3 separate regions of the Homo sapiens genome follow, and all the other regions are linked to region 3. Evidence: fine-mapped expression QTL. A gene starts in region 3. Each other region holds a variant in brackets. All regions are shown on one strand. Distances are from middle to middle. Region 1 overlaps S100Z (S100 calcium binding protein Z). Region 2 overlaps S100Z (S100 calcium binding protein Z). Region 3 holds the start of S100Z (S100 calcium binding protein Z).

The links.
Region 1: its variant is fine-mapped to the expression of S100Z in whole blood (TOPMed, PIP 0.90).
Region 2: its variant is fine-mapped to the expression of S100Z in whole blood (TOPMed, PIP above 0.99).

The regions. Positions count from the first base shown.
Region 1 is chr5:76,911,257-76,918,906 of GRCh38, reverse strand. The region is part of intron 4 of S100Z (S100 calcium binding protein Z); the gene reads right to left. Among named protein-coding and RNA genes, the nearest start is that of CRHBP, 38 kb to the left of the region's middle. The variant C/A (reference allele first, on the strand shown) is at 4,612.
Region 2 is chr5:76,920,592-76,928,241 of GRCh38, reverse strand. S100Z (S100 calcium binding protein Z) reads right to left here. Exons shown (of 5, transcript NM_130772.4): 5 at 6,592-7,525. Among named protein-coding and RNA genes, the nearest start is that of CRHBP, 29 kb to the left of the region's middle. RefSeq lists a silencer at 2,394-2,567. The variant G/A (reference allele first, on the strand shown) is at 3,178.
Region 3 is chr5:76,846,163-76,853,812 of GRCh38, reverse strand. S100Z (S100 calcium binding protein Z) reads right to left here and starts at 3,799. Exons shown (of 5, transcript NM_130772.4): 1 at 3,658-3,799.

The DNA of each region.
Region 1 (7,650 bases), 65 kb before region 3:
AAAACAATGGAAAGAGTAAAGGGATTGGTGATTGCCAGGGACAAGTGGGAGGGAATGTTGAATAGATAGAGTACAGAGGATTTTTAGGGCAGTGAAGGTATTGTGTATCATACTGTAACAGTGGATACGTGTCACTATGCATTTGTCAAAACCCATAGAATGTACAACACTAAGAATGAAACCTAGTGTAAACTACAGACACTGGGTAATAATGATGTGTCAACGTAGGTTCTATTGTAACAAATATACCACTGTGGTGGGAGATGTTGATAATGGGGAAGTCGGTGCACATCTGGAGGCAGGTATAACATGGGAGCACTCTGTGTATCCACTAAACTTTACATGAACCTAAAACTACTCTAAAGTCTATTTTTTCAAAAGCAAATTAAAACCCTTATTCTACTGGGCACAGTAGCTCACTCCTGTAATCCCAGCACTTTGGGAGGCCAAGACGGGAGGACTGCTTGAGCTCAGGAGTTTGAGACCAGCATGAACAACATGGCAAAACCCTGTCTCTACAAATAATGCAAATGTTAGCCAGGCATAGTGGCACGCACCTGTAGTCTCAGCTACTCAGAAGGCTGAGGTGGGAGGATCACTTGAGCCCGGGAGGCAGAAGTTGCAGCGAGCTGAGATTGTACCACTGCACTCAAGCCTGGGTGACAGAGCCAGATTCTGTCTCAAAAACAAAGTAAAAACCCTATTCTAACGACAAAAAATAAAGTTGGATAATATCTAATGTTAGTAAATGTGTGGAAAAACAACACGTGCATAGAGGTATGGAGGTACAAATTGGTATAAGGTTTTTAGATAGAAAATTGACGTTATCAATCAAAATTTTAAATACGTATACCTTTGACCACAAGTCCAATTGTAGGAATTAACCTACAGATAGATACCCTAAAGACTACACAGATATATATTTAAAGATTGTCATTGTAGAACTATTTGTAAGAGCAAAAAGCAAGAAACCAACTAGACGTCCACCTACAGGAAACTGGCACTTTGACATAAAAATATTGGGCATTGAGGTTCAATACCAATTTTGACCTTGGTATTCAATTTCTGATTTTTTTTTTTTTTTTTGAGACAGTCTTGCTCGGTCACCCAGGCTGGAGTACAGTGGTGTTATCTCGGTTTACTGCAACCTCCACTTTCTGGGTTCAAGTGATTCTTGTGCCTCAGCCTCCCTTGTAGCTGGGATTACAGGCATGTGCCACTACATCCAGCTAATTTTTGTGTTTTCAATAGAGATGGGGTTTCGCCATGTTGGCCAGGCTGGTCTCGAACCCCTGGCCTCAAGTGATCCAACCACTTCCCAAAAGTGCTGGGATTAGAGGTGTGAACCACTGTGCCAGGCCAATTTCTGATTTTTGACCCAAGCTTTCCCTCTGGAAAACCATATAGCTGAATGGCTACTTCAGTCTCTTTTCTGACATTCTTAAACTTGTGTGTGATCATGAAACTGTGTAAGTACCACCTCACACCTAGGCAGCCTAGCAATGTCAGTAATACCAACAAGGCCTGTCATTCAGAATTATTGTGACTATCTATGAATAGTATATGGAAGCATGCTACAAAAAAGTCAAACTGGAAATCTCACATTTTATGTTTTGAAGCTCTATTAAATGATTGAAATATGTATGTTAATACATAATTATAAACTTATTTTGAAACAATTATAGATTCACATGTAGTTATGAGAAATACAGACTTGAGACCTTCCTTTTTTCTTCTTTTCATACAACTTTTTGAAATATCCTTTTTTTTTTTTTTTTTTTTTGAGACAGTCTCACTCTGTCACCTAGGCTGGAGGGCAGTGGTGCAATCTCAGCTCACTGCAACCTCCGCCTCCTGGGTTCAAGCCATTCTCCTGCCTCAGCCTCCCAAGTAGCTGGGACTGCAGTCACCTGCCACCATATCCAGCTCCTTTTTGTATTTTTAGTAGAGATGGGGTTTAACTATGTTGGCCAGGCTGGTCTCGAACTCCTAACCTCACATGATCCACCTGCCTTGGCCTCACAAAGTATTGGGATTAAAGATGTGAGCCACTGCTCCCAGCCTTGAAATATCCTCTTTTCTAATGCAGGGATTTCATGCTATAACTTTGCCTCTCAAGACTTCTTTAGCAGTATCTTACAAATTTTGATATATCGTCTTTACATTTTTATTTAGTTGAATGTGTTTTTAATTTTCCTTAAGACCCTCTTTTTGACCCAAGTATTATTTACAAGTGTGTTTAGTTTGCAAGTGTTTAAAAATTTTCATGTTATCTTTCTGTTATTGGTTTCTAGTTTGTTTCCACTGTAGTCAGAAAACACACTCTTAGGATTTCAATGGGTATTAATTTTTCAAGGTTTTTTTTTTTTTTTTTGGCCTAGGACATGGTCTGTCTTGGTATATGTACTGTGGGCACATGAAAATAATGTGTGGCCTGTTGTTGAGTGTTTCACAAAAGTCAGTTCAATCCTGTTAATTGATGGTCATGTTATTTCTTCTATGTCCTTGCTGATTTTCTGTCTAGCTTTTCTATCAATTGTTGAGAGAAGGATGTTGCAGTCTTCAATTGTAATTGTGGATTTGTCTGTTTCTCTTTTCAATACTATCAGTTTTTGCTTTACATATTTTGTAGTTCTGTTATTTGGTACATATATAATTAGGATTGCTATGCCTTTGTGGTAGATTTATACTTTTATTATTAGTAATGTACTTCACCATCTCTGGTAATTTTTTTTTTTTTTTTTTTGAGATGGAGTCTCACTCTGTCTCCCAGGCTGGAGTGCAGTGGCACAATCTCGGCTCACTGCAACCTCCACCTCCTGGGTTCAAGCGATTCTCCTGCCTCAGCCTCCCAGGTAGCTGGGATTACAAGTGTGTACCTCCACGCCCAGCTAATTTTTGTATTTTTAGTAGAGACGAGGTTTCACCATGTTGGCCTGACTGGTCTTGATCCTAACCTCATGATCTGCCTGCCTTGGCCTCCGAAAGTGCTAGGGTTAGGTAATTTTGTTTGCTCTGAAGTCCACTTATCTAATGTTAACATAACATTTTAAATTAATGCTTGTGTAATTTTTTGTCCTTTTACTTTCAACATACGTTATTGTATTTGATGTGAGTTTCTTGTAGAGAACATATAATTAGGGCATGTTTTTAATCCATTATGCTAGTTACTGTATTTTAATTTTTATAGTTAAACCATTTACATTTAATGTAACTATTGATATGTTTGGGCTTAAGCCTACCACTTTATCTTTTTTATTTATTTATTTATTTTTATTTTTTATTTATTTATTTTCTTTGAGACGGAGTCTCGCTCTGTTGCCCAGGCTGGAGTGCAGTGGTGTGATCTCGGCTCATTGCAAGCTCCACCTCCCGGGTTCACGCCATTCTCCTGCCTTAGCCTCCGGAGTAGCCAGGACTACAGACGCTCACCCCCATGCCTGGCTAATTTTTTTTGTATTTTTTTTAGTGGAGAGGGGGTTTCACCATGTTGGCCAGGATGGTCTTGATCTCCTGACCTGGTGGTCTGCCCGCCTCGGCCTCCCAAAGTGCTGGGATTACAGGTGTGAGCCATCACGCCCAGCATTTTTTTTTTTTTTTTTGAGATGGAGTCTCACTCTGTCACCCAGGCTGGAGTACAGTGGCACAATCTCAGCTCACTGCAAGCTCCGCCTCCCAGGTTTACGCATTCTCCTGCCTCAGCCTCCCGAGTAGCTGGGACTACAGGTGACTGCCACCATGCTCGGCTAATGTTTTTGTATTTTCAGTAGAGACGGGGTTTCACTGTGTTAGCCAGGATGGTCTTGATCTCCTAACCTCGTGATCCACCTGCCTCGACCTCCCAAAGTGCTGGGATTGCAGGCGTGAGCCACCGTGCCCGGCCTTATGTGTCCGGAATTGATTCCTTCCAGTGGATTCTTGGTCTTGCTGACTTCAAGAACAAAGCCACAGACCCTTGCGGTGAGTGTTACAGTTCTTAAAGATGGTCCGGAGTTTGTTCCTTCAGATGTTCAGATGTATCCGGAGTTTCTTCCTTCTGGTGGGTTCGTGGTCTCGCTGACTTCAGGAGTGAAGCTTCAGACCTTCACTGTGAGGGTTACAGCTCTTAAAGGTGGTGCGTCAGGAGTTGTTTGTTCCTTCCAGTGGGTTTGTGGTCTCGCTGGCTTCAGGAGTGAAGCTGCAGACCTTCGCGGTGAGTGTTACAGCTCTTAAAGGTGGCACGTCTGGAGTTGCTTTTTCCTCCTGGTGGGTCCATGGTCTCAGTGGCTTCAGGAGTGAAGCTGCAGACCTTCACGGTAAGTGTGACAACTCATGAAGTTAGTGCGGACCCAAAGAGTGAGCAGCAGCAAGATTTATTGCGAAGAGTGAAAGAACAAAGCTTCCACAGCATGGAAGGGGACCTGAGCGGGTTGCCACTGCTGACTTGGGTGGCCAGCTTTTATTCCCTTATTTGGCCCCACCCACATCCTGCTGATTGGTCCATTTTACAGAGAGCTGATTGGTCCATTTTACAGAGTGCTGATTGGTGTGTTTACAAACCTTTTAGCTAGACACAGAGCTCTGATTGGTGCATTTACAATCCTTTAGCTAGACAGAAAATTCTCCAAGTCC[C/A]CACCCAGCCCAGAAGCCCAGCCGGCTTCACCTCTCAATCCCCCCTCTAAACAGGATGCCCCAACTGCTGTTGGGAATTTGGCCGATGACCGCTTTAGCTACTTCCTGCTGGATAAGGGCAAAGAAGGAGCCCTGCAGTTGTAATGTCCTCCAGAGGGGAACTCTTTAGGCCAGTGGAAGGGCCAGCAGGTCAGTCCAGGGGTCCTCGGTAGAAGTTGTTGGTTGAACTCATTTGGTGTTCCACTTGTAAGACCATCTGTGGCTTGATGGCCTTGATTCCAGAGGAAACAAATTTGACAAAAAGGTTAAAAATATAGGGCCCAAAGGTGAGTAACAGCAAGATGGCTGCCATGGGACCTAGAAAGGGGAGAAGCCATGTTGCCCAACTCCAGAAGTTGGTATAAGAGCTTGAAAGGTGTTGTCTGATTTCAGAAGCCTTTTCCTGTAAATGCCGGGCAGCATCTCGTACTATCCCTAACTGGTTAGTATAAAAACAGCACTCTTCCCCTAAGACGGTGCAGAGATCTCCTTTCTCAGCAGTGAGGAGGTCTACGCCTCTGCGGTTTTGGAGAGTCACTGCCGCCGAAGAGTCTATTTGGGATTGTAGAGTAAGGATAGATTTTGTTATCTCTTGCAAACTGTCTGAGAAATCCTTTGAGAGTGTGTGGTAGTAGGATAATACATGTTACACTGTTAACTTTTAGCAAACTTTAGTTGAAAATCTTGTAAGTTTGGGATTTTTTCTTTGCTGTTAATAAAACCTTGTTCAGTCCATATTAACTTAGAATTGGTATAGATAATTCCTTCCTGATTCTATAAGATGGCTCCTTCCTGATTCTGTTTGTCTGAGTGCAAACAGCTCGCAGGTTTGAGCAGACATATCATTAGGCAATTTTCCTAACTCTGATTTTACAAGAGTTTCTTTATCACTTACTGAATATCCATTGTGTCTTTTTCCCTTAATCGCCTGGGAGGAAACATCTATCTTCCTGTCCTGAAGGGAGTTCCTCCTTGGTCTGATCGGACCTTTGTATGGTAATTAGTTAAGATTTAGATCCCCTGTTAGGAAACCTGCTGGGTTAAGGATTTTTGATAGGAAGGCTATGGGTTGTCAGTGGCCTCAGTGCTTTCAGGCTACGCCCTTGTTTACACTGACAACAAGGTGGTATTGGAGTGTTATAGGGTTACAGAGAAGACCTTCAATTATCAATTATAGGTTCTAAAGTTACCTTGGCTTTTAAAGGAATAGGGTATACGTTTTTTCTTTACTACTTCCATCTCTCTTTCTTCTCTTTGACTTCTTCTTTGTCTCCTTCTGACTCCCTTTTTGTCTGTCTCTTCCTCTCTCTGACTCTCTCTGTCTCTCTGACTCCCTATTTGTCTCTGTCTCTTCTCCTCTCTCTCTCTCTCTCTGACTCCTTCTTTGTGTCTGTCTCTTCCTCTCTCTCTCTCTTTCTGTCTCTTTCTCTCTTTTCTTTCTGCTGGTCTTTCCTTGCCTCTGCCAGCCACTTATGCTGCTGTTCTCCCTTCTCCTTCCCCTTTTTGATGGCTTTGGCAGTGTAAGACTGCCACCTCCTTGAGTATTTGCACTGAGTGCAATCACTCCATGATTTCCTTGTCGTATTTTATGGGGGTTCCCCCCAGAGGTAACTCTCTTTCTTCCCATATTACAGCATGGGCATGTAGGATTAGATAAGCACATTTGCTATCCGTATACACATTTATTTTTTTTTCCTCTTTCCCAGTTCTAAGGCTCAGGTAAGCACCACTAGTTCTGCTAACTGGGCCCTTGTCCCTGGGGGAAGAGGCTTACTTTCAAGTACGGTTACATCATTAACTATGACATAACCTGCCCTTCATATCCCACTCTCCACAAATGAACTTCCATTGGTATATAGGTTAAGGTCAGGATTAGCTAAGGGGACTTCTAAGAGATCATCTCGGGTGGCATAAGTCTGGACTATAATTTGTTGGTGATCATCCTCGATTGGGTCCCCATCCTCTGGGAGAAAAGTGGCAGGGTTGAGGCCATGCACATATGTATTTGAAGCACCGGTCCCTCAAGGAGTAGCACCTGGTATCTAAGTAGGCGGATGTCTGATACCCATAAACTTCCTTTGGCACCTAGTATGCCATTTACATCATGAGTAGTCCAAACAGTGAGATCCTTTCCTTGTATTATTTTGATAGCCTCTGACACTAAGCCAACGCCGCAACTACCCTTAAACAGTGAGGCCAGCCTTTTGCTACTACATCAATTTCCTTACTTAGGTATGCCACTGGTTGTGGGGTTGTCCCACGAGTCTGAGTAAGGACTCCAAGAGCTAGCCCTGCACTCTCTGTGATGTATAAAGAGAAGTATACAGGGGCCTGGCTATCCCTCTGTATCCAGGGATCCATAGTCAGCAAAAGCCGGTGATTCCAAGGAACCCCCGCAACTGTTTTAATGTCTTAGGGTGAGGATAAGCCAGTATAGGCTGTATTTGTTCCTTGCTGAGGGCCCTGGTACCTCTGGCTAAGATCAGGCCTAGATATTTGACCTGCTATAGGCAAAGCTGGGCCTTCGATCTAGGCACCTTGTACCCTTGATTAGCTAGAAAGTTCAAGAGATCTAGAGTAGTCTGCTGGCATGAGGCTTCAGAACTGGTAGCCAAAAGTAAATTATCCACATACTGAAGGACCAGAGTGCCTGGACTTGAGAAATGGCCTAGATCTTGGACCAGTGCCTGACCAAACAGGTGAGGGCTATCCCTAAACCCTTGGGGCAAGACGGTCCACATAAGTTGAGATGTGTGGTCTGTGGGATCCTCAAAGGCAAAGAGAAACTGGGAGTCAGAGTGCAGGGGAATACAGAAGAAGGCATCCTTGAGGTCCAGAACAGTGAACCATTCTGCTTCCTCTGGTGTTTGGGAGAGCAGGCTATAGGGGTTGGGTACAACTGGATATAGAGGAATTACTGCCTTTTTGATGAGTCTAAGATCTTCCACTAGTCTCCACTGACCGTTCGGTTTTTGTACTCCTAGAATTGGGGTGTTGCAG
Region 2 (7,650 bases), 74 kb before region 3:
TGTTATGGTCCTTGTTTCCCTTGCAAGTGGAGGACCAAAAAGCTGTAATTTATAAAGGTCTCCATTGTGTAAAAATGACAGTGAACTAGACCCTTTGTTTCAAAACAAAGGAGGCAGTACTGACTCGGGTGCTCCTAAAGGATACGTGAAATCCATATAGATGGTGAGGGCATGGGAAGTATTCTTGCCCATGTGTCTTTCAATACCTGTGTAATGCCAGCACATGCCCCACCCAAACCCCCACGTCCTCAGAGCAGAGTCTAGGCCTGTGGACAGGGAACAGCACACACACAGATGGGCTTAGAGTCAGCTGGGCTTCAGCTTGAACCTGGCTTTTCCATGTATTTGCTGCAGGATCCTGGGAAATTTGCTCAACCAGAGCCTTGGTTTCCTTATCTACGAAATGAGGATACTAACCTTTCCCTGTAGGCTTGTTGAGAAGTTTCCATGTCATAACATGGGTAAAACATGGGAATGAGGCTGGACCTAAATGAATGTTAGTCTTCACCTTCCTAACTCTCCTCTTTCTACAACTGTTGTTCATAAGCTGAAATTTAATTCCTTATTTCTTCTTTCATCAAAATGCCCTTTGAGTTTTCTTTTAAAATTTCCTGACAGCTTTCCTCAGGGGCCTAAGCCACTATTGGAAGGGTCTTTAACTTCTCCCAGCCATTGAGGTGACTGATTTTTGCAACCCAGACCGGTTGTGGCTGAGTAGTGGTGGAAGCCTAATCAGTTACCAGGAAGGGATTTAAATGCCAAGAAAATGGGTCAGCTTGATATTTTGAGACTTGGAACATCTGAATGGAGGTGAGAAAGATGAAGGACCAGCTATGTGAGGATCTGGGGCAGAGGGAGAGCACAACTTGGCATCTTCCACTGACACCTGGAACCTCAAAAAGGGGCCAGTGGACTGGAGCTTGGGGGAACATGGTATGAGTTGAAGGTGGAGAGGTAGGGCCAGATGCTGAGGGCATCAAAGCATAGGTCAGTGTGAGGCAATTGGGCTTTAGAATCCCTCTCCCCCAGAGCACAGAAAGGACCTGAGGTATTCAAACCTGACTTGTTTTAGGGCCTCCCTGAACAACAATTATTTCCACGCTTCACTTTTTGTGGGTCAGTGTCTTTGCTTTGAGTTTTGATGTCTTATGTTACTACTATTAGCGTAAGAAGGAAGTAGCAGGAACATCTTACAATCATGCACAGGCGAAAGAATCACAGACTGAATTGGGAATTGCCCTAACCATTGAATGTTAAAGACATTGTCTTAAGAGATAAAGAGTTCATAACAAAACATCCAGATGAAAAAGAAGGAAATTGAAGACAGGAAGCTGGGGGAGACAATACCTAATCCTTGTGTTTATACAGACGTTTCTAAGGCAATAAATCATGAATCAGATGGTTTGCAACTCTTCAGGGGGAATCTTTTCCTTTCTATTTTGCAAAGCTGATTCTACTGCCGCAAGCTGGAAACTGTCAATTCCTGAGAAGAGAATTTTAATCTGGGCTTCACGAGCCTGTTCTTTCTCCAGATCCCCTCTTTGCTTTCTCATCTTTCTGTTGTTCTAAAACCTGCTTGGTTCTTTTCCTGTCTTGGGCATTTAGCCTTTCTCTCAGGTCTGGGCCTTAAGCTTTATGCTTCGTTTTCTCTGGAGCTCCCTCCCCTGTTCCACAGCTCCTAACCAGGCTCTATAGGACTTTCTTGCAAATTTCACAGCAGATCCTGAGGAGCAGCCAGTCCAGGGAGGGCTCTGTTTTAGCCCCACCCACTTCCACAGCCCTCCCAGCTCCCACACTGAACTGCCACTTTCATCTTTTTTTTCCTCAAAGCCCATTACCTGAATGTTGTGGAAAACTGAACTTGTTTTTGTATTTCCTTATTGGTGAAACAAACATAAAAGTACATCTTCCTGGAGTATTATCAGCTCCATTTGGCAGGTAGGACTACAGCATCACACTGCCCCAACCCTCACGGCTACTAATCACCAACTCTAAGTTCATCACTCACCAGATTGGACAATTCTATCGCCTTAATATCTGCAGTTAGGCCAGAGTATACTCCTGGGTGAATTCTAATCATCATTCCTCAGAAAAAAAAACAAGCTTCTCCACTATCCTGTATCTAAACCATCCTCTGCTCTGCCCAGTAATTTTACCTCCCAGCTGTCCTTTGTAGCCCAGATGCCACAATGACACACACTGAATGACTTGTTTACCAACCTTTGAAACTATGTGCCCTTATATTTTTATGTATCTTTGTTTTATTTTGTTTCTTAAGATGGAGTCTCACTCTGTCACCCAGGCTGGAATGCATTGACACAATCTTGGCTCACTGCCACCTGCACCTCCTGGGTTCAAGCAATTCTCCTGCCTCAGCCTCCTGAGTAGGTGGGACTACAGGTGCACGCCACCACACCCTGCTAAAATTTGTATTTTTAGTAGAGATGGGGTTTCACCATGTTAGCCAGGGTAGTCCTAAACTCCTCACCTCAAGTGATCCGCCCCCCTCAGCCTCTTAAAGTGTTGGGATCACAGGCATGAGCCACCACGCCTGGCTTTACATACGTTTATATTAAGTGATTTCTTACTGTCAGCCACTAAGTTCTTCCTATAGCAAGCAGCATAGATTATCTAAAGAAGTTACTCAAGCGAAAATCTGTAACTTTAAAAAAAAAAAGTGCTTGTGGGAATTGAGAGCGTTAGAACAAATCATGCAATTGCAACAGAAATGAGAGTCTATAGACTCAGGAGGACAGAGAGATAAGAGCCAGGCAGGTGAACCCTGTTTCTCCTGGAGTAGAGGACTGAGTGTGAGACCTACTCTGTTTCCAGGAGGAAGTTTCCCATCCTCTTCACAAGGCGAAGCCCCGGTTATGGTTACTGCAGTGGTAGTGAGCCTATGAAATGGTCCCCAAGCATCCCTGCCTCTTGGCGTTCACACCCCCGCATACTCCCCTCCCATAGAGTGCTAGGTTAGTGTGTACGACCAATAGAACGTGTTAGAAGTGATGGCATGTCACTTCTGAGATTAGGCTATTAAAAAAACACTGTGACTTCTCTCTCCCTTCCTCTCTCTCTCTCTATCTAGCCACTCATCTTTGGGGACCCTCATATCATAAGCAGTCCTAGGGATCGGACCTTGTGGCAAGAAACTGAAGCATTCTGCCAACAACATGA[G/A]TAAGCTTGGAAGTGGTTCCTCTGGCCAATAGCTCGACAACCCAACAGCAACCTTGTAAGAGTCCCATGAGCCAGAACTCACCAGCCAAGCCACTCCTGCTTTCTGACTCTGAAAATATGTGAGATCATAAATGTATCTTTTTTTTTTTTTTGAGACAGAGTCTCGCTCTGTTGCCCAGGCTGGAGTGCCGTGGCGCCATCTTGGCTCACCGCAATCTCCACCTCCCGCGTTCAAGCGATTCTCCTACCTCAGCCTCCAGAGTGGTAGCTGGGATTACAGGTGCCTGCCACCATGCCCGGCTAATTTTTGTATTTTTAGTAGAGATGGGGTTTCACCATGTTGGCCAAGCTGGTCTCAAACTCCTGGGCTCAAGTGATCCGCCTGCCCTTGCCTCCCAAAGTGCTGACATTACAGGCTTGAGCCACCACACCCGGCCCATAAATGTATCTTTGTTAAGCTATTAAGTTTTAGGGTAATTTGTTATACAGAAGCAGGGAACTAATACTACTGCCCTTATTCCTCTAATCCAGACCTAACTTCTCCGGGGTCCTGAGGACCAGGGGTTCTCAAATTTTAAAGGGCATGCTAATCACAGGGAGAATCTTGTTAGAACGTGTAGGAGCCAAGGGAAAGCTCTTCTTCACCCTCTGAAGCTTTGCTGAAAGTGAACAGAGAATGAATAGGAAGATTAATAGGAGAAAAAGGCATATACATTTATTTAACACACATAAGCACAAGGGAATCCCAGGAGGATGATTACCTAAAAACCCAGTGAGGTCTAGATGCTTATATACTTTTCTTCACAGGGGAGGAAAGAGCAGGGAAATGTGGCAATTTATATAGTAAATGATTTTTAGGGGTAATGAATGGGCCCAATGTTCAGTTCATGGCTAGCAAATAATTCTCTTTGGGAATCAAACAGGACCAGAGAACAGTGTCTGGGCTCCAAGTGTGGTGTTTAATTATCATCTCTTCCTCTGAGATATGAGTTTTAATCTTTTCTGCTTAGCGATATTTTAGGGGAGAGGATCAAAGGCAATTGTGTTTCTCTTTGGTGGACCCAGTTTCTAGATAGATCAGGGATCTTCGGAGAACAGCCTCATCCTATGCTTTGGGAGACACAGAGAATTGGGGGGTGGGGAAGGAGGGCAGAGAGGCCTTGTGGCTGCTTCTCTAGTTCAGCATGTCAAAGTGCCATATTTTGGAGTGTCATTTCTTTGAGCCCCAACAAATCCAATTTTTAATTTGGTAATTATAGGGTAAGAGTTTCTGCATTTCCAACAAGCTTTCAGGTGCAGGCTATGCTAATGCTGCCGGTCCACAGACATTAATTAGCAAGTCTATAAAAACGGTTTGCCCATGATGGAGCTATGGTGGTGTTGTGGATTGGGCTGAATGAGGAAACCTCTCCCATCTCAAAGCAAAATCTGATTCTACACCCATGAGGGTGTAGTTGGAGGTGGAAGAGGAACCATCGTGGGTGGGAGGGTATCTTGCATTTGTCTTGGTATTGCCCTCCCACCCCTCTAGCCTGCCCTCCCCCATTGGGGTGGCATAGCACTGGGCCCACTATACTCTAAAAGTGGGCAACTAGGCATTAGATAGCTCCTAATGCAATACTGACTGCACAGCACCACCTGTGAAATACTCTTAACAGGAGTCCAACTTGACTCTAATCCAGGCTCTAGAGCTACCTTCACTGATGGAGATATAGGTGATAGAGGAAACAATTAAATAACATGGGAATAAATGGGCAAATCCAGAATATGAAGCTTTCCACAGGGCTACCTGGTTTCTACAACATAGGCATGGGGGGAAATTACAAAAGACTGCTGAGGATTGATATAGATTTAGGAGCCTTAAGAACCAAATGTAATCTGTGGGCCTTGTTTTGTTCCTGATTCAAACAAACCCAATGTAAAAAGAGATGTTTTGAGATAGTCATGGAAATTTCATTTTGAACTGCATATTAGATGATGTCACGGAATTATTAAATTATTAGGTGTGATATGGTATTGTGTTTTTTTAGAAGCCCATTTTTTTTTTTTTTACATAGGCATTGTAGGGGCAAAGGGAAAACTTCCCCTTTGTCTTCTGAAGGCTTGCTAAAACTCAGCTGACAAAAGGCAGATTATTGGGAAAAAAGGCATACAAATTTTATTAAGATGCATATATGTGCATGGGATTCATACAAAATGTGAATTCTAAGAGGGGCTAGATGGTTGCTTAAATACTCTCTTTGGCTAGGCATGGTGGCTCATGCCAGTAATCCCAGCACTTTGGGAGGCCGAGGCGGGCAGATCACGAGGTCAGGAGATCAAGACCATCCTGGCTGACACGGTGAAACCCCATCTCTACTAAAAATACAAAAAATTAGCCGGGCGTGGTAGCGGGTGCCTGTAGTCCCAGCTACTCGGGAGGCTGAGGCAGGAGAATGGCATGAACCCAGGAGGCGGAGCTTGCAGTCAGCCGATCGTGCCACTGCACTTCAGCTTGGGCAACGGAGCAAGACTCTATCTCAAAAACAAACAAACAAACAAACAACAACAAAAAAACTCTCTTTATGGGAAGAGATGTATGAACCTGGGAGGTGGGAGGGAGACATTATGGGAAGGTGATGGGCAGAACTGCACAGGAACAAAGGTCATCTTATTTTGCAGATTAAGTTTCCCAGGTAATCTCTTGAAGCTTCCTTCAGAAGAATAGAAGAAAAGTCTGTCTGGGCATGGTGATGACTTCCAACATCTTCTCTTCTCTGGTGAGTGATCTTTCCTGGTTATTTGCTGAGACCCCCTAGGGAGGGGATCCTAAGAAAAATTGCATTTCTTTTGGAAAAAAGCTTTCTTGGTTAGACAAGGAAATTCCAGAGAGAGTCTCTCCCTATGCTTGGGAGGGGGTGGAGACAAGACAAGGTTAGGGGAACCTTGATTCTGAGGCAGCTTCTAAGGCCTCTCAGCATGTCAAAGCACAGTCTTTGGGGTATCACTTTTGAGCCCTAACAGCATATCTGAACATGTAGGGATAAAATGAAATGGTACCTAGGATTTGCTTTCTTTTTTCTTTTTTTTTTTTTTTGAGACAGTCTCTCACTCTGTTGCCCAGGCTGGAGTGCGGTGGCATGATCTCAGCTCACTGCAACCTCTGCCTCCTGAGTTCAAACAATTCTCCCGCCTCAGCCTCCCAAGTAGCTGGGAATACAGGCGTGCACCGCCATGCCCAGCTAATTTTTTGTATTTTTAGTAGAGTTGGGGTTTCACCATGATGGCCAAGCTGGTTTCTAACTCCTGACCTCAAGTGATCCGCCCACCTCGACCTCCCAAAGTGCTAGGATTACAGGCGTTAGCCACTGCACCCGGCCTAGGATTCGCTTTCAAAGGAAAGAGATAGATGAAGCAAATATGACAGAAACTTGATAATTGTTGACTCTGGGTATTTATTGTAATCATTTCCTTTTAAAATCTTCAAGTAAAAGGACATCGTGGTTTTTGAATATCCAGTGTCATAATGCCATGTCTTACTTTTATTATCAGAAAATTATGAATACTTTTAAATAATCGTTAACTCTCACAAAGAAAGGAAGGAAAGAAGAATAGAAAATCGTGCCTAGTTCTATCTCTGTTACCTTCTGGGACTTTATTTCTTCATTTGTAAAATTAAGAGTCTGAATACCCATCCAAAGAGAAGGAACAAGAATTTTATTCAAGATTCAGATGTATTGACTTAAAAGCTCCCTTAGTATTATTAATAGAAAAATTAGAAATAATCTATATGCAATAGGGAATTGGAGTAAATATATTGTGATATATCAATGAAAATACTATTCAGACAAAAATAATAATACAGTTGTATATTTATTAAGCTGGAACTATATAGATAACAAAAGATATTTTTTGGTGTAATCTCATTTTTATGAACCATAGATATATAGATACATGGACCTAGGGAAAATTCGAATGAAGAAGTTAACAGTGATTATATCTGGGTAATGAGATTACATTTGATTATTTCCCCCTACAATAAACTTATATTACTTTTTTAATGAGAAATGGTAAAAGATTTTTCTTTTTTGTGGAAGTTGTGGATTTCAAGATAAAATCAGAGAATCTACTTCATACAGCTGTAGAGGCACATCACATTGGCTGAGGTTGCTGTAGACACTTCCTCACTGCTCCTTACCTAATTTATGAGCATGGGAAGGGCTCAAGCAGCTTTCTCCAAAGCCCCCAAGCCAAAGGCACTACTAAACACATTCAGTGCTATTCCAGGCAGACCCCGTCCTGAGAGCGATGATTTTCAAGGATGCTGCTTTCCACTTTATTTAGCCCTTGATTAGCATTCACGAACTTCCTGAAATCAAAGACCCACACAGTCACTTGAAATCCAGCCAATGGCTGTGTAGTATGTTTCCTGCTGATGATGGTAACATTTAAATTGGACACATTTACTATAAGTTTATCTACCACTCTGCTGTG
Region 3 (7,650 bases):
CTTTTTTTTTTTTTTTAAGATGGAGTCTTGCACTGTCACCCAGGCTGGAGTGCAGTGGCACTATCTCAGCTGACTGCAATCTCTGCCTCCTGGGTTCAAGCAATTATCCTGCCTCAGCCTCCCCAGTAGCTGGGACTACAGGTGTGCACCATCACACCTGGCTAATTTTTTGTGTTTTTACTAGAGACAAGGTTTCACCTTGTTGGCCAGGCTGATCTTGAACTCCTGACCTCAGATGATCTGCCTGCCTCAGCCTCCCAAAGTGCTGGGATTACAGATGGGAGCCAACACATCCGGCCTGGGGATTACAATTTGACATGAGATTTGGTGGGGATACAGATCCAAACCATATTAGCAAGTAATAGAATAAGCAAATAAAAGTAGTTCAAGCTTAATAAGGTAATTTGCTATCTCTTACTATAAAAGTTGGTTGTTTCAGTGTTTTGTCAATGCTATCAAGGGCCCAAGATCTATCTTTCTTCTTCCCTATCTTCTGTGTGCCAGCTCTCATCTCTGACTTGTCCCCGCACAGTCACAAGATGACTGCTGCAATTCCAGGCATCACATCCTCAGACCATCTATGGAGGATTATTTGGAGGGAGTCCAGGCATTTCTCTAGATTTTTCTAAAGTTTCTGAAATTAATATAGCCAGATCAGTAGAAAATTAGGTGTCTGAACTGTATCACATTGGCCCCTCCTAGAATTGTTTAAGCAGCTGTGCTTCAAGGGAAATGCTGCTTGAAGCTGCTAGAATCATCAGCCTTAGACTTGAATCGACTCTGGGATGAATGTTGTTTGAACTTTTCATTCCCTCTCTATGAAGACTCTCAGGGGAAAAATGTTGCTCTGGTTCTTGTGTTGAGAAGAGTCCTGACTTGCCTAAGCAGTCATCCCATGGATACTATGAATAGCCCAGCTGATAAGATAGGATAAGACAGATAATGTATCCTCTTTTTCTTTGGCTGCTAGAAAGCCTAGAATCAAGTTCATGAGCCACCTAGGCCGAATACTTGATTTTACCACATGCTGCAAACTCAAATACCTACAGCCGGGTCATGTTCAAACTTTGCTGTTTTTTGTTTGTTTGTTTGTTTTTTGAGACAGAGTCTCACTCTGTCACCCAGGCTGGAGTGCAGTGCAGTAGCGGGATCTCAGCTCACTGCAACCTCCGCCTCCTGGGTTTAAGCAATTCTTGTGCCTTAGCCTCCTGAGTAGCTGGGATTACAGGTGTGCACCACCATTCCTGGCTATTTTTTTGTATTTTAGTAGAGATGGGTTTTCACCATGTTGGCCAGGCTATTCTCAAACTTTGGCCTCAAGCAATCCACCCACCTCAGCTTCCCAAAGTACTGGGGTTACAGGTGTGAGCCATTACACCCAGCCCAAACTATTTAACAACAGATACAACAGAGGCACTAAGCAGAATGAAAAGCAGTTGTGAACAGGGAGCATCAGCCTGCTTCCACGGCCAGGCTGCTAGTGTAAACAGGCAAAATTGAGACTAAGAAAAAAAAAATATCTTGACTAATTTTTTTTATTACATTTGATAGAAGGGTGAGTTCAGAGAAATAGTCCATGCTGATAAGAGGACCGACACTGCTTCAGTGCCAGACAGCCAAGTGGAGTGGAGGCCAGTGGGAAATTGGAGAGCCCGTGCTCTCCCAAGAAGGCGAGACTGCTTCTCAGACCCAGATCATCGTTGCCAGATGGGATATGGCTCAGAGCTCCCAGAACTTCACTTTTTTTTTTTTTAAAAGAAAAAGTGAGAAATTTTAATTTTTAAGAATTCCTGGATTTTAAGACTGCAACTCAAGACAAACAAACAAAACCCACCAAAACCCAACAGACAAACATAAGACTGCAGGACAACTCAAACAGGAAATTCAGCGAATGCTGGCCAGCTTGTGACTTCTGCTTTCTGCTGTGTACTTTATATTTAACCTCATTCCTTCCTCTACTTTACATCTCGTTCTTTTCTGTCTGCTTTCTCTCCTACTTAATTTATAATATCTTACTCTACTTTGTGTTATCTTCATATGTCACCTTAAATCCTACCTAGGACCCAGGAGAGTATAAATAAACTGACCACAGGACATCTCCACTTAGGTAACACATCAGAGTCTCAGATTCCAAACCACAGCAAACTGATTTTGGCATTTTCCAATCCCCTGCTCCCTTCTTCCTCTACCCCAGAGGGGATCCCCTTTTTTTGCTGCTCCAGTCAACAGCAATACCCTCATTCACCCAACTGCATGGCCAGAAACCTGAGTATGATGCTATTCCTGGCCCCTCTCTCTCTCTCATGCAATCAGTTGCCAGGTTGTATCTCCTCACTCTCTGTTCCTTCCTCCTCAACCCTAGCGCCATAGTTCAGGCCCTTGTCACTTCTGGCCTGAATTACTGCATGAGATCCCAACTCACCTCCTGCACCTACTTTGCTCTTCTTCAAAATTAGCCTCCCCTGCCTGCTGGGAGGCACACCTGAGCTCCTCACTTAACCTCCTGGACAGGCCCTGCCATCCCCTGGCTAAATCTAAACTCCCCGCAGTGTGCCCACCCATCCCCTCTGCACCATCTGTGCCGCACACGTGGCACTGCCACTGTGCTGCCCATTCCTCTGCTCAGGTGCCAGTCCTCCAGGGAAGCCTCCGATGCCCCTCAGCTCCTGGGAGCACTCCGCCTCTGGGTGCCCCTGTATCACCTCATGCTTTCCTCTAGACCTGCACCGGCACTGGGTTGAAGGAAAATAATAGTAGCCAACGTTAATTAGCACATACTCTGGGCCAAGCACCCTTCTAGGCAGTTTAAATGTATTCCTTTATGTCATCCTCAAAAATCCCATGAGGAGGCTGGGGAGCGGTGGCTCATGCCTGTAATCGCAGCACTTTGGGAAGCCAAGTGGGAGGTGGAGGTTGCAGTGAGCTGAGATCACACCACTGCACTCCAGCCTGGGTGACAGAGTGAAACTCCATCTCAGAAAAAAACAAAAAACAAAAAAAACTTTATTTCTCTGTCTAACCCAAATTTTGTGTCCTCTCACCAACTTCTCCCCAGCCCCTCCATCCCTCTTCCCTCTCTTCTTCTGTAGGCTGAGAGCAGCCATTCCAGGGCTGATTGTCCAGGCATGCCCAGCACTGGCCAGTGTGAAGAGGAGGAGCATAGACCACTGCTGTGACTTCCTGGGAGTGGGCTTACACTGGCATCTGTGCAGGCTTCAGGAAAAAGAAGCGAAATCACGGCGTGGATCTAAGGGGCCAAGCCTCACCTTGAAGGTTCTTCTGGGTCTTTGGCCTGGACAAGAACATGAAACTTGAATTTCTCAAGGTGAGGTGAAGGCCAAGCAGGAAGCCAGGATGGTCACCAGGAAAGGAGCCAGAATGAACTAAGTGTTCTTTAGGGCAAGGAACTTACCAGAACCTCTACGCTCCGAGCTATGATCAGGCTGCTCTCTCCCTCTCTCTCTCTCTCTCTCTCTCCCCCACCCCCCCGACCCCTTTGTGGCCAAGGTAAGGCCACATTTTAGAGTGGAAGCCCCAAGGCAACCCCCCACCTCACAACCTCCACTCTTGTTGCCCTCTCTAATCCAACGCCTGCCAGGCTCACACTTCAACCACTAGACTGAAAAGCAAGAATCTTCCACAAAAATAATCTTTTACCTTAGACCTGCTTCCTGTGCAGATGAGATAAGGAGAATGCTCTTGTCTGAATTTCTGGGCGTGGAGATTAGCAAGCCGTTTTCCTCCCAGCAGCTAGAGCGAGCAAGAGGCCCTGCTGTGAGTAGTGCTGTTCTGAGTCTGCGTGGTCCAGACTCACCACACTGCAGGCACGTTTCTTCATCAGGTGGGAAAGCAGGAAGAGGTTTAATTTAGGACCTAAAGCTGGTATATTGCTGAGTAAAAGAAATGGGAAGGCACCAAGTCTCTAACGAAATTGCGCTGGGTGCAGTGGCTCATGCCTCTAATCCCAGCACTTTGAGAGGCTGAGGTGGGTGGATCACTTGCGGTCAGGAGTTTGAGACCAGCCTGGTCAACGTGGCGAAACCCCATCTCTACTAAAAATATAAAAATTAGCCAGGCATGGTGGCGGGCGCCTGTAATTCCAGCTACTCGTGAGGCTGAAGCAGGAGAACGCTTGAACCTGAGAGGCAGAGGTTGTAGTGAGCTGAGCTCGCCGCTGCCCTCCAGACTAGGTGACAGAGCCAGATTCCGTCTCAAAAAAACAAAAAAAAAAGAAAAAGAAACTGCTTGTGATCCAACACTCCCCCACTGGTGCCTCCTCATGGTGAAGAGCAATTACTCTGGCACCAGAGTCTTGGGGTTCAAATCCTTACTTCACCAGTATGTGACTGGAAAAGCTACCTAACCTGCCTGCTGAAGCTTCATGGCTAATAATTCCTCACAGCATTTCTTTTTTTCTTTTTTTTTTTTGAGACAGAGTCTTGCTCTGTCACCCAGGCTGGAGTGCAGTGGCATCATCTCAGCTCACTGCAACCTCCACCTCCCTGGTTCAAGCTTCTGCCTCAGCCTCCCAAGTAGCTGAGATTACAAGCGCCCACCACTAAGCCTGGCTAATTTTTGTATTTTCAGTAGAGATGGGGTTTCACCATGTTGGTGAGGCTGGTCTTGAATTCCTGACCTCAAGTGATCCGCCCACCTTGGCCTCCCAATGTGCTGGGATTATAGGCGTGAGACACTGCGCCTGGCCCAGGAGGAATAAGTTTAAGAGCTCCCATTGTACAGCATGCTATCTATAGTTAATAACAATATATCGTGTATCGAAAATTGCTAAGACAGTAGATGTTAAGTGTCTTTATCACCCCCAAAAAATGACAAGTATATGGGGCAATTAAGTCAAATAGCTTGACTTAATAATTCCACAATGTATACATAAATTAAAACATCAAGCTGTATTTGTATACCATAATATATACAATTTTTACTTGTCAATTAAATAAATAAATACACAGAAAAGGGCAGAGACAGGTCAAGAAGCACAGCACTCAGTACAGAAATACAGATAACAATATATTGAAAGAAAGAATTCAAAGATAAATTTTTTTTTTTTTTTTTTGGAGACAGAGTCTTGCTCCATTGCCTAGGGTAGAGTACAGAGACACAATCACAGCTCTCTGCAACCTCAACCTCCCAGGCTCAAGTGATCCTCCCACTTCAGCCTCCCAAATAGCTAGGACTGCAGGGTATGCCACCACAACCTGGCTAATACTTGTATTTTTTTGTAGAGATGGGGTTTCACCATGTTGCTTGCCCAGTCTAGTCTTGAACTCCTGGGCTCAAGTGATCCTCCCAGCCTGGCTTCCCAGAGTGCTGGGATTACAGGCACCAGCCACCGCACCCGGCCAAAGATATGTTCTGAAGATTGAAACGTCTCTCTTTCCAAAATAACTACTCTTGGCCAGGTATGGTGGTGTGCGCCTGTAATCCCAGCTACTCGGGAGGCTGAGGCAGGAGAATTGTTTGAATCCGGGAGGCAGAGGTTGCAGTGAGCCAAGATTGTTCCACTGCACTCCAGCCTGGGCAAGAGTGAGACTCCGTCTCAAAAAACAAACAAAACCCAAAAACCTCTTGACTGGGTGCTGTGCCTCAAGCCTGTAATCCCAGCACTTTGGGAGGCAGAGGTGGGAGGATCACTTGAGCCCAAGAGTTCAACACAGCCTGGGCAACATAGGGAGACACCATCTCTACAAATTTTTTTTTAAAAATTAGCTGGGCATGGTGGTGCACACCTGTGGTTCCAGCTACTCAGGAGGCTGGGGTTGAGAGTATCACTTCAGCCCAGGAGTTTGAGGCTGCAGTGAGCTGTGATTGCAACCACTACTCTCCAGCCTAGGTGACAGAGCCAGACCCTGTCTCTATAAAAGCATTAATTAATTAATTAATTAATTACTAGTCTTTCCCACCTGAAAGTGAAAACTAAGAAGGTCCAAACTGTAGGATTATAGAATGACGGATGTCTGGGGAGATCAGAACAAATCTGCGGAAGAAAACACATGTAATCTGTCTGCATTGCCAGTTTTGGGTGGTGATTCCTGTCCAAGTGTAGCTCCCAAGCACAAGACTGTGGTCTAGGGTCCTGTTCTTCCCTATCTTTAGGAGAACATTAAGATCACCATGAGGCAGGCACCACATAAGAGGGCACAGTGATAAGAATTTTAGCATTCCTCGTTGTTCCTGCTAAGTGCTTGTGAACAGTTGTATAACCAGAGTTCTCGATCGGCAGAGCCTTTTCATTTCCTCTAATATGCTTTCACACTTTCCAGTTCTGGATGCAATCAGCAAAATCCAGACTATGGGGAAAATCTACAAACAACCTGGTTTCTTCAACAAGTAAGTAGCAAGTGGTGAGGGTGGAGATAAATTAAGAGATTTAAAAGTCATCAACCAATTGCAATGTCTGAGCTTTATTTAGATTCTGATTTTTTAAAAAAAGAAACCACTTATGATAATTGAGATGAGTAGAAATTTGAACACTGACAGGATATCTGATATTAAGAAATTTTTTGAGGTATGATTTTTAAATTTCTTGTCTTAGACACTGAAACATTTACGAGTGAAATAATATGATTCCTGAGATTTGCTTCAGAATAAACGGGATGGGGAGGAGGATGGGGCAGAATTGACCAAAGGTTGATGGATATTGGGCCTGAGTGATGGAGACATAGAGTTTCCCTATACAATCCTAATTCTGTATGGGTATAAAATCCTCCATAATAAAGTTTTTAGGGCTGGGCGCAGTGGCTCACACCTGTAATCCCAGCACTTTGGGAGGCCGAGGTGGGCGGATCACTTGAGGTCAGGAATTCTAGAGCAGCCTGGCCAACATGGTGAAACCCAGTCTTTACCAAAAATACAAAAATTAGCCAGGCGTGGTGGTGGGCGCCTGTAATCCCAGCTACTTGGGAGGATAAGGCAGGAGAATCGCTTGAACCCAGGAGGCCGAGGTTGCAGTGAGCCAAGATGGCACCACTGCACTCCAGCCTGGGAGACAGAGCAAGATTCTCTCTCAGAAAAATACATAAATAAATAAAATAAAATAAACAAACAAACATAAAGTTTTTAGGCTGGGCACCGTGGCCTATGCCTCTAATGCCAGCACTTTGGGAGAGCGAGGTAGGTGGATCACTTGAGGTCAGGAGTTCAAGACCAGCCTGGCCAACATGGTGAAACCCCGTCTCTACTAAAAATACAAAAATTAGCCAGGTGTGGTAGCGGAAACCTGTAATCCCAGCTACTAGGGAAGCTGAGGCAGGAGAATTACTTGAACTCAGGAGGCAGAGGCTGCAGTGAACCAAGATCATACCACTGCACTCCAGCCTGGGCAACAGAGCGAGATTCTGTCTCAAAAAAAAAAACACAGTTTTTAAAAAGATTAAAAAAAAAGAATTTCAGTTTTAATGGACAGAAATGGTCACTAGAATAAACACCATCATTTCCCTCCCTGTGCTGCAATTTTTTAAGCCATAAATTCTGATAAATCTGTTATATTTTTAACAAAGTCTCCCATTTACACAAATCTCTGGTTAAAGAAAAAAGTCTGACTTCCACTGGTAAGAACTAGACACAGTTCCCCTGCAAGAGCCCAGGTGGCCTCTGAAAGAGTTCACAACATAAGGCTTGGCTAAAACTGCTTTC